Homo sapiens: one gene and its partners. The protein of the gene in region 2 purifies or fractionates together with the protein of the main gene of each other region. This does not show direct contact. Each region holds a gene or a part of one and is shown on either strand. Other genes may lie near its edges. The genes, in order: ALDH18A1, MTHFD1 and PFKL.

What was found.
Region 1: the proteins of MTHFD1 (region 2) and ALDH18A1 purify together in Homo sapiens (affinity purification with mass spectrometry; 2 studies listed by BioGRID, with this or other methods). This does not show direct contact.
Region 3: the proteins of MTHFD1 (region 2) and PFKL fractionate together in Homo sapiens (co-fractionation; 2 studies listed by BioGRID). This does not show direct contact.

The regions. Positions count from the first base shown.
Region 1 is NC_000010.11:95,655,040-95,658,784, forward strand, and holds the start of ALDH18A1 (delta-1-pyrroline-5-carboxylate synthase), read right to left. Parts: upstream 1,673-3,745; 5' UTR 1,558-1,672; exon of another isoform or gene 1,250-1,557; intron 1-1,249. UniProt on the Homo sapiens protein: Bifunctional enzyme that converts glutamate to glutamate 5-semialdehyde, an intermediate in the biosynthesis of proline, ornithine and arginine.
Region 2 is NC_000014.9:64,391,238-64,394,982, reverse strand, and holds part of MTHFD1 (C-1-tetrahydrofolate synthase, cytoplasmic), read right to left. Parts: intron 1-3,745. UniProt on the Homo sapiens protein: Trifunctional enzyme that catalyzes the interconversion of three forms of one-carbon-substituted tetrahydrofolate: (6R)-5,10-methylene-5,6,7,8-tetrahydrofolate, 5,10-methenyltetrahydrofolate and (6S)-10-formyltetrahydrofolate.
Region 3 is NC_000021.9:44,302,919-44,306,663, reverse strand, and holds part of PFKL (ATP-dependent 6-phosphofructokinase, liver type), read right to left. Parts: intron 3,107-3,745; exon of another isoform or gene 3,051-3,106; intron 2,390-3,050; exon of another isoform or gene 2,209-2,389; intron 1,492-2,208; exon of another isoform or gene 1,346-1,491; coding exon of another isoform or gene 1,247-1,345; intron 865-1,246; coding exon of another isoform or gene 729-864; intron 1-728. UniProt on the Homo sapiens protein: Catalyzes the phosphorylation of D-fructose 6-phosphate to fructose 1,6-bisphosphate by ATP, the first committing step of glycolysis.

The DNA of each region.
Region 1 (3,745 bases), on a different chromosome or scaffold from region 2:
GATGAGGAACAAGGCCTTTGAAGTTGGTCAGATTTGGGTTCGAGCTCTGCACTTGCTGTGTGTCTTGTGGAGAGTTACCCAATTTTTCTTTATTATTATTATTATTATTATTATTATACTTTAAGTTTTAGGGTACATGTGCACAATGTGCAGGTTAGTTACATATGTAAGAGTTACCCAATTTTTCTAAGCCTCTGTTTCCTCACTTATAAATCAGGGATACTAACACTATGGACCTCATGAAATTATAGTGAGAATTAAAAGAGAGAATGCGTGGAAAGTGCTTGGGTACAACAAATGGTCAGTAAATGTCAGTTTTCCTCCTTTTGTCTTTTAGGCACTAATGATGCCTTACAATTATTTTTTCCTTAATTTCCTTCAAGACCCATCACGGGAACAAAGAATTCAACGAATATTCACTATTAGATACAATCACACACATATATTGACTGACTGTTTACCTCTCTATTAACCAAGAGTCATTGAAAGCTCTGAACACCTACGGTCACTGAAATAAGAGATTGAAGACTGACGTAGAAACCAAGCCTCCTGACCTCTCCCCTGTACCACCATCTCTGACTGACCAGGCAGAGTGTATTACGCCCTCGAGAAGCACACAGTTGATCCCAAGGAGCAAAGAGAGTGTGTGTGTGTGTGTGTGTGTGTGTGTATCTAGACTCGTGTCTAGATTTGTGTGACTGTGTCTCGACTCTGTGTGTGTGTTTAGACTCCATATCATCAGTTGAAGAAAGTTTTCACGTTTTGACTCAAGACATTTCTCAATATCTCTTTACAGACTAAACAGAATGCCCTTATCTAACTGATTTGAACAGAGAAGTGAACCTCAGTCCCAGCACAGTTCACCCACAAACACATGCTCGGTATATGGCTCACCACTTAAATACAAAGATCCGATGGGCCTCACCACCTCAGAGGGCAGGGGATAATGATGGGGGAAGGACGAGGTGGGGTATGTGGGTGCGTCCTGCTGTAACAGGAAGACCCCAGCATACACAGAATGCCATACTGCAAAGGGAGTCTGGCTTTGAGGAGGGGATGATGAACGCCTGGAGGGCCGCGGGGAACTAGGGACCCAGGCCCCTGAGAGTCAGCGTGCGGCCAGCTAAAACCCGCGGCATCCCGGCGCTGCCACCACCGCCACCCACGCCACCCACCAGTGCAGGCTCCATACTCTTGGAAAGAAGGGGCCCGCGGATGCCTGAAGTCTCCACTTGGCCCAGTTCCTTACATGGTGTACCCAGGGGAGGCCGGGGAGGTCAGGGCCCGTAGCCATCCGTAGATCCCGGGGCGGCCGCGCACCGGCATATGGGAGCGCGCCACGGTCTTGCAGCGCGCCCTGGGCGGCCCGATGCAGCCGCCATCCCTCGGCCGAGGCCCACACCTACCCATGGGCCAGATCCCCGGGCCCCGGCACCTGCTCCGGCAGCGTCCCCGCTCCAGCGGCCCGGCGCTCACGCCCCTCGCGCTTGAGCCTGGGCGCGCAACAGCTTCCGCAGAGACGCGGGCGCCTAGCCATCCCCGCCGCTCGCCGCGTACCTTCCTCACCACCGCCGCCTTCGCCCCCTGGCACTACCGCGGGTCCGCACTCCACGCCGGGCTGATTCCGGCGCTCGCTCACTCTCTTTTTTCTTCCGTCCACGTCCCGCACGATGACGTTACGTCAGTGGCGTAAGAGTAAACCTGGGCAGCCGGCCCTACGCTGTTGACGTGGGGCGAGGGCCTGTCCTGGAGCTGCGGCGCGGCAATGGCGTAGGCCCCTTTCGAGAATCAAGCCAGCGCTCCACGTGGCGGGCCAGCCCACCAGGCCCCGGCAGCCTGGAAGAGGCGGGACTCGAGTTCAGGGGGAACGCCCACGTCCCGGGAGGGGACAGGGGCCGGAGACAGGGGCGAAGACACCTTCGAAACGCCGCCCCACTGGGCCTTCCAGGGAGGTAGAAGAGGTGCCTGGCACCCTCAGCTGCTGGTAGATTTCATAAGGTGTGTTTGTCAATGTTAACCATTTATATCCCGGGCACACCTCGGAAATAGGTTGGATCAACTTACATATGTTTGTTACTTCAGGCACATCCTGGGAATAGATTGGATCAGTTTACACACATTTGCAAACTTTGGCTCCTTAAATGGAAGCATTTTGGCACTGCAATCAAATTACTTGCCCCCTAGTCATCTGGAGGTTTCCCCAATGGTCCCATCTCAACTCCCTTTCATCAAAGGCAGTTGTAAGAATATTGCATTTTAAAATAGGATATTCAATCTATGACAACTAGAACTATTCCAAAGGTGAATGCAGACTCACCTTTAAAGAGAGACCACAAAAACCTGGCACTGTGGTGTGTGCCTGTAGTCCCAGCTACTCGTAGGTGGAGGCAGGAGAACCACCTGAGCCCAGGAGTTCAAATCCAGCCTGGACAACACAGCAAGACCCCACCTCTTAAAAAGAAAAAGAAAAAAAGTGAAAACACAGATTTTTCTCCCTCTTTCCTTGCTGTATTTTGCTCAAAGGACACATTCCTGCATAGGCACATAGTGCTGGGTGGTGGGAGGGCAGCACTTGATAGGAGGTTGGGCACAGAAAGGCATCATGCCCTTCTGTCGTCCCTGATAACACTACTAAGCCTATTTATTCATTTTCTTGTTTATTAAACACTGGCTACTGCTATGGTCTGAATATGTCCCCCAAAATTCATATGTTGGAAACTTAATTCCCAATGCAAGAATATTGGGAGGTGGGGCCTAATGGGAGGCATTTGGGTCAAGAGTGCTCCACCTTTATGAATAGAGTGACCCTCATGAATAGATTAATGCTGCTATCAAAAGGTTTGTGGAGGTGGGTGTTCTCTTCTGCTCTTCTGCCCTTCCACCACGTGAGGATACAGCAAGAAAGCCCTCACCAGATGCTGGCACCTTGATCTTGGACTTCCTAGCCTCTAGAACTGTGAGAAATAAATTTCTATTATTTAAAAATTATCCAGTCTGTGTTATTGTGTTTTAGCAGCACAAAATGGACTGAGACAGCCAAGCATTCCCTGGGTGTGGAAGAAGACATAGCTGAGTTCACAGCCTTATGGAAGAGAGAGATATATGAGCAAATAATTACAATACCATGTGATGAATACTAAAGAATGGGATGGCCAGACATTCAGGGATGGCTGAAATGGTTTGACTTTGTGTCCCCACCCAAATCTCACCTTGAATTGTAATTCCCATAATCCCCACCTATGGAGGGTGGGACCTGATGGGAGGTGATTGGATCATGGGACTGTTTCCCCCATGCTGTTCTTGTGATAGTGAGTTCTTATGAGATCTGGTGGTTTTATAAGGGACTCTTCCCCCTTCACTGGTTTGCTTTCTCCTGCCTGCCACCATGTAAGACTTGCCTCTTCCCCTTCCACCATGATTGTAAGTTTCCTGAAACCTCCCCAGCCATGTGAAACTGTGAATCATCTAAATCTCTTTTCTTTATAAATTACCCAGTCTTGGGTATGTCTTTGTAACAGTGTGAAAACAGACTAATACAATGGCTTTAAAAAGAGTTGATATTCAAATTGTGCTTTGAAGCACTAGAAGTAAGGAGTTTACCTAAAAGAGGAGAGGAGTACAGGATCATATGAGGAAGAGGGAATAAGGGAATGATATATGCAGAGGTGTGAGACACCCCGTGAAAAGAGGCTACTTGCAGTAGGACATGACAGGAGAGGGGTCTGGCTGGTATCCTAAACTTACA
Region 2 (3,745 bases):
CCGCTAGAGCTGACTAGGGCTCCAATGAACAGCTCTAGGTCCCTTGCAGCCCTCTGGATCATCAGAGGGGAAGGTAGAAAGAATGGGGAAGGTAAGGGTTCTCCACTTGGAGGGAAGAACCTGCCAAGAGCTTGTAATGAGAAAAGCCTCACAAGGACCTGGCCTTCCTGCTTTTCAAAAAGACTGAACAAAACCTTAGGTAGAAAAGGTTAGGTCTAAAAGGCTGCTTACTAAGGAGGGACTGGTATTTGGGCACCTAAACCCAAAGATCACTTATAATGTTAAGTCATTCATTGCAGTCAAGATTAAGTTCCTGACAGGCTCTGGCAAAACCTTTCACAGAAATGCTCCCTTATCTCCTGGGACCTCTCAAGCACCAGATACCAAGCAGTACGTCTCCCGTCCAGGCTTGTGGTGAGGGGCAAAGAAAAAAAAAAAGCTTAGCCAGCAAAGTAAGTAGGTCTGACCTGTCTCTAACCAGTCAAAATTGGACTATAACTTCAAAAATGACTTTTTGAAGAGAATCTGTTTGGGTGCTTCCCAACCAGACTGATGGGTGGAATGATTTCCTCACAATGGAAAGGCCTCAGGGAGAACCAAACCCAGGGTGTCTCCTGCTGGAGGGTAGAAGTTTGCAATTCCTTCTAGCAAGCCAATGACAAGCCCATGGTAGGGAAAGAAATGCACCATCGAGCCTCTGCCACCTACCTTGGAACACCTGGGCAAGTCACTTAGCTTCTGGCTAAAGTGTCATAAACTGCAAAATTGAGGGTAAGGGTAGTAGCCGAGTGGCTGAGGAATCTTGACTGTGGCACCTTTAGCCACCCACTTCTTCAAGGTCAAGGATTTACAGGGTGACAGAAGCTGCTTTTTGGTCAATTAAGGGGTGCAAAGGAGAGCCAACCGCACAGTGCAGGGGTAATGGGGGCCTTCTGCACTGTGGATGGGACGTCAAAGAAGCTTGTTTTGAGAGTCTTACATTCTTTTAATCCTTGGGGCAACGTCAGGAAGTAGACAGTTCTCATCATCCCTACTGCACAGAAAGGAAAGTGAAGCTAACTTTTCCAAGGCCACACAAGCATCCCTGCCCCTTAACCTCTATTCTACCAACCTCTACTGAGTCAATTAGAGGAGAAGGGAGCCATTTGCTTCCACTCCAAGGACCCTCCTCTGTACTAGGCCAGCTTTCCTTCTAGAAGATTCTTCATGCAAATAGGGGATGTAACAGGGAACCACAGACCTCTGCTCAAAACCCCACTACCCAAATCCCAAACTGCCTGATCCCAACTCCCCTGATGGACAAGGACAGACACTTATTTGCAAACCACATCCCCAATCAGGTGCCATGACCATAGTAGTTGGCTGCCAGCTCTGGGCTCTGCTGCACTATCGCTGCAACCTGCCCAACAGCCTGGCTGGGGTCCTAGCTGAAGGTCCCAGCCTCTCTGGAACTCCGACCTCTCCTGCACAGGCTTCCAGAATCAATCCAGCTATGACAGTCAAGTTTCCATGTAACTTTTGAGCAACCTGCACTTTGGAGTTCATTACAGGCAAATTTTTTTTTTTTTTCTTTCTGAGATGAAGTTTTGCTCTTGTTGCCCAGGCTGGAGTGCAATGGCGCCATCTTGGCTCACTGGCTCACTGCAACCTCCTCCTCCCAGGTTCAAGCCATTCTCCTGTCTCAGCCTCTGGAGTAGCTGGGATTACAGGCATGGGCCACCATGCCCAGCTAATTTTGTATTTTTAGTAGAGATGGGGTTTCACCATGTTAGTCAGGCTGGTCTCCAACTCCTGATCTCAGGTGATCCTCCTGCCTGGGCCTCCCAAAGTCCTAGGATTACAGGCATGAGCCACCACGCCCTGCCCAGACAAATCTTTTTAAGCACAAAAGGGCCTACATGTATTTAATCTACAGGACAAAGTAAAAGTCTTATCCATGTTAACTTAGTAACCAAGAAGACCTGCCCTTCACTATGGTAAGCAAATTATTTTCACAAAAACAGTTCTTCTAGCCCTGTAGCTAAATGTACAGCCAAGGTTCCAAACTTTTATCTTTGATCACTAGGATAAATTCTAATTTTAAGTCTCAAGATTATAAGCCAGCTCCCAAAGGTACAGCCTGGATAAACACAAACATCACTTTTTTATTCAATGAGTACTTTCTAAGTACCTATTTATTAAAACTTACCATGTACCAACAACTTCTCTAAATGCTTTATAGGTATTAAACTCATTTAATTCTAACAACCTTATGAGTTAGGTGACATTACTACCCCAATATACAGAAGCTAAGGCACAGAGGTAAATTGCATGACCCAGTGATGCACAGAGGAGGCAGCACCGTGCTTAGGCTCTGGAGCTACCATCCACAGCGAGCTTACAAATATACCCAACTTGCCCTGCACTTGGCCAGCAAACACTCGCAGCACCTACTCAAACCATCTGCCTCTTCACAACCAGTCTCTTTAGAAAGGAGACTTAATCAAGAAAAATGCCACCAATGGAGAGAGCAGGCTTAATTATAGCAAACTAAGGGAAGGAAAAACCAAACAAATCATATAAATGTAGTAAGCCCCCCTTTGAAAGGCCCACTTATAGAACAACTATGCTTTCTTGCCTACAAAGCAAGGTGGGTCTTCCAACACTAATGCACATCCTTCTCCCACTTTGCATAATCTTTTAAAAGACACCACCCTTCTGCCCAGGGCAGGGTCAGGTTCCTCTACTCAGGAGCCTCCACTCGGTCAGCTTCTCACAGGGCCATTGCCATTGACCCCCCAAAGCAGTAAGTTAGTAACTGGTGAGGACAAAGGTCTATGGCACAGGCTGTGTTTTTGGTCAGGAGCTATTTCCCTCACAACATTGGCAGGCTTAAGGCTCCACCTCCTTCAAGTCTTTGCCCGTAAGTCACTTTTACAAAGACTATGACTCCCATATTTAAAATTGCAGCCACCATACCACAGAAACTCCTGTCCCTCTTTTCTGCTCTGGTGTTCTCTTTGTGCTTCCCACCAGCTCACAATGTGTTTCACCTATTTAAATGTCTGTCTCTACCCATCAGTATGCAAGTTTCATGAGGGTAGGGATTTGGGCTGTTTTGTTCACTATTAGACTCTCAGAGCTTTGAAGATTGCCTGGCTTAGGGGACACATACAGCTACTTGTTGAGTAAGTGAATAAATACCCACAAAGAACAGATACTTGTCTCTAACTCTCAGACCTTCCCCCGGTTGTCAAATTCAGGCTGCAAACTTAGAATTCCCCGTGAGGGAGAAAAGGGGCTGTTACTTCCAAAGAAAGATAATTTGGCAACTAAATCCATCATGTAAGTACCCAGTTTCCCACAGAGTAGAGCAGGTAGAGAAGGAATCTGGAATGCTGAACTTTGTTGATGTCCGAGCTCCCAGGAAGGCATAAAAGGAGAATAATAATAGAAGAGGACGAGTCAGGGATAGCATTCTCAGCAGGGTGGGAAACATGCTAATGAGAGGAAGACTGTAAAGAAAAAGCAAAGCGCCAGCGGGGGCGCAGTGGCTCACACCTGTAATCCTAGCACTTTAGGAGGTGGAGGTGGACAGATCACTTGAGGTCAGGAGTTCAAGACCAGCTTGACCAACATGGCGAAACCCCATCTCTACTAAAAATTCAAAAATTAGCCGGGCATAGTAGTGCATGCCCGTAGTCCCAGCTACCTGGGAGGCTGAGGCAGGAGAATCGTTTGAACCCAGGAAGTGGAGGTTACAGTG
Region 3 (3,745 bases), on a different chromosome or scaffold from region 2:
AACCTGTCAGTCCCACGCTGAGAAGCAAGGCCCTGGACACCCTCCCCATCTCAGAGGACAGGGGGTAGGGGAGGCCTGGACACCCTGTCCATCTCAGAGGGCGGGTGGTGGGGGAAGGCCCTGGTCACCCTCCTCATCTCAAGAGGGCAAGGGTCAGGGAAGGCCCGGACGCCCTCCCCATCTCAGAGGGCAGGGGGTAGGGAAGGCCTGGTCACCCTCCCCATCTCAGGAGGCACCAGGCCAGGAAACTTGAGGACCAGCCCTGGGCCCCCGGGTGGAGGCTCGGGTGAACCCAGCAGGCTCTAGGCTTCAGCTTCCGAGCACCTGGAGTATGGTGCCCAGAGATAAACTGGGAACATCCCATGCAGAGCATGGCAATCAGGCATGTGTGGGTGTCCCGAACTCCACACCCCGCCGCCCCAACCTCTGCCACGGAGCCCCCACACTCACAGGCCACGGGGCCAGGCCTTGACCACAGAGCAGGATAAAAAGTGGGGCAGGTGGAAAAGAGGCCGGCACCTCCCACACCGGCCCCACCCCAGACATTCAGGCTGCGGCGTGGGGATGGAGAAGCCGGGGAGCACCTCTGGGCACTGAGGAAAGCACCTGCTGGAAGGGGCTTGGGCTCCTTCCTCCGCAATGAGATGGGGGACTGAGAACAGAGCCCCTCCGGCCTCAGCCACCCAGGGAACAGCACTGCCCTGCCCCAGGGCCTCAGGGACCCTCACCCCCCAGCCTGGACATGATGCTGGTGCCACCAGGCTCTGAGGTCACTTCCTCTTTCCTGTCCCCTTGCCCTCGGCTCCCAGGACTGCAGTGAAAGAAACAGTCTGTCCCAGCGGGGGCCTTGGCAAAGCCAGTTTCCTGGAGAGGGACATTAACGGGGGAGGCGGCACTCAGGAAACGCTGGTGCTAATGTACCCCACACCTTCTTCCCGAGAGCCCCCATCTCAAAAGATATCCATGACTTCATACAAAAGGGGCAGCCAAGACCACCTAATCTTCAGAGAGGAGGAAACCCACGCCAGCGGCCAGGGTCCCCTTCTGAGTGAGGTCTGGGGCCGTGTAACAGGCCTGAGTTTGTGCTTGCCCCTGGGACCAGCCCTGCTCTTCCTGCCTCCCTCCCAGCACCCATACCATGCCATCCATCCCTAAGCCATGCGGGTCCTCTGTCCCCAAGCCTCGTGCCCCTCAAAAGCCCCTGCCCTCCCACCCCCCTGTACTTGCAGAGGCTGGAGGTGCTGACCTGCTGGGGGCTCCTGCTCAAGCCTCGGCAGCTCCCTTGAACATGGAGACCCCCACGAGAGGACTCTCGACCTCTACCCTGGTTACACATGCTTCTCATCCGCTCTCCAGCTTGGCGTGGGGCTCAGCAGCAGGGAGCAGGTGTGAGGTGAGGTGCCACGCCTTGAGAAACCCCAGGGATCGGCACACTGTTCTCACGTAGCAGCCAGAGTATCTGCCACCATCCCCACACTACAGGAATCCAATGAGATCCCAGAGGGAGGGTGAGGGACCTTCCAGAGCCCAGCAGGTGGCAGCAGAGCCAGGACTCACCCAGACCCACCCTCAGGTTCAGTAGGTGGCCCTCTCCCCACCCAGCAGCCAGGGGATCCAACAGGGGGGCCAGAGCCAAGCCCGGCAGCCATCCAGAAGAAGGGGCACAGACGTTAGAATGGGCAGAGCACAGAGCGTGCAGGGAGCTGGAGCTGCCCACACTGGCAGCTTCTCCACTTGAGCAAGCAACGCCGTCTCTAAAGGAACAGTGCCTCCCTCACATCCCCACATAGATGGGAGCACGGCTGCTACAGCTGAAACTGGGGCGGGAACCCAGCAAGCATCCCACACACACCCAGAAAGCCAAGCCCCCCAGACAGACAGACAAGCTCCCCCAGAAAGACAGCCGAGCCCCCCAGACAGCCGAGCCCCCCGCAGACAGCCAAGCCCCCCGAGACAGACAGCCGAGCCCCCCCCAGACAGCTGAGCCACCCCAAGCACCCGACAACCAAAAACAGTCAGCAGAGCCAAGTCCTGCTGCCTGAGGCTGGGCGTCCAAGGTGGTGCTGTGAGTGCAGCGCCCTGTCCCCCACCCTCACTGGAGTTGGGGGCAGTGAGGGAGATCCACTCAGCCACAGCTGGCCGAAGCTAAGCCTCCGTCCCTCCCTCGCCCTCCCTGCAGACCTGGTCCCACCACAGGTCCAAGCCCACCTCTGGCAGGCAGCAGCTGAGGCAGGGCAAGGAGAGGGCAGGAGCAGCGCACCCAGGCCACCGTCCAACCACAGGGCCTCTCTGGTCTCCCCAGCTCCAGGCGGAGTCAATGTGCCACTGGGCGGGTCAGCCCAGGGTCACAGCCATCTCAGCAGGGGGCCTGGTGGGCTTGTCAGGGGACCTGGGAACGGCAAAGGGGCCCCAGGATCAGGGGTCAGCAAGGGTACCCCTCACTTCCAAATGTCTTCAGGGTGCTCTGCAAAATAAAACCTGCTTTGACGCCCGGAGACAATGAAGCTGCCAAAACCCAGCTTTGTGCTGAGCCCTTGGGAGGAGAACAAAGTGGCCATGTCACATGGCCACTTTGTTGTTGGGACTGGATTTTAGAACGGGACTGGAAAGGGACACGTTCTGGATTTTAGAACGGGACTGGCTGCGGCCTGAAGGAGGAAATTTTCTCTGTTAACCTCATTGGAAGCTGTAATCTTCAAAAGACCTTTTTAATGGCCCTTTAATCGGCTTTTCTTTCTCAAAATAAACCTCGGGCAGCAGTCGCCGACACCGCAGTCAGAGGGCAGGCAGGACAGTGGGCCTGCCGCTGCCTACCAGCAGGTGATAGCCACCCCTGCCCAGGAAAAAAGGCTGGAACAAAATCAATGTCTGAGGTTGGTGCGCTGGTTCCCAGTGACCTTTCCTCACCATTAGCTCCCAGGCAAGAAAGCAGTGAGCATGAAATGGTCACAAAGTTTAATGATCAGCTAAGGATGTAAGCATGAGCCTGAAGGCTCCAAACAGGAGGCCATGTCAGGGAGGCGTGGCGGGCCAGGAAGCTAAGTCCTCACCTGCGATAACAGGAAACCAACGTCCAAACACACCAGCCAGGGAAAGGCAGGGCACGGTGTCCTGCAGGGGCAGGGAGGGGGCACTAGACAAAGGGCCCAGAGAATTAAAAGTGCCCAGGCCAGGGCGAGATGAAGGTAGGCATAGGCAGGCCGGGCCATTTTTTTTTTTTTTTTTTTTTTGGTCAAGTCTGTTTTTTTTTTTTGAGACAGAGTCTCGTTCTGTCACCCAGGCTGGAGTGCAGTGGCGGGATCTTGGCTCACTGCAACCTCTGCCTCCCCGGTTCAAGCGATTCTCCTGCCTCTGCCTCCCGAGTAGCTGGGACTACAGGCATGTACCACCACGCCTGGCTGATTTTTGGGGTTTTTTCTTGTTTGTTTTTTGCAACAGAGTCTCGCTCTGTCGCCCAGGCTAGAGTGCCGTGGCTCGATCTCGGCTCACTGCAACCTGCACCTCCTGGTTCAAGCGATTCTCCTGCCTCAGCCTCCTGAGTAGCTGGGATTACAGATGCGCACCACCATGCCCAGCTAATTTTTTGTATTTTTAGTAGAGACGAGGTTTCACCATGTTAGCCAGGATGGTCTTGAACTCCTAACCTCAGGTGATCCACCAGCCTCAGCCTCCCAAAGTGCTGGAATTACAGGCGTGAGCCACCGCGCCCGGCCTGTTTCAAGTCTTCTAGCTACCTTTGCACAGG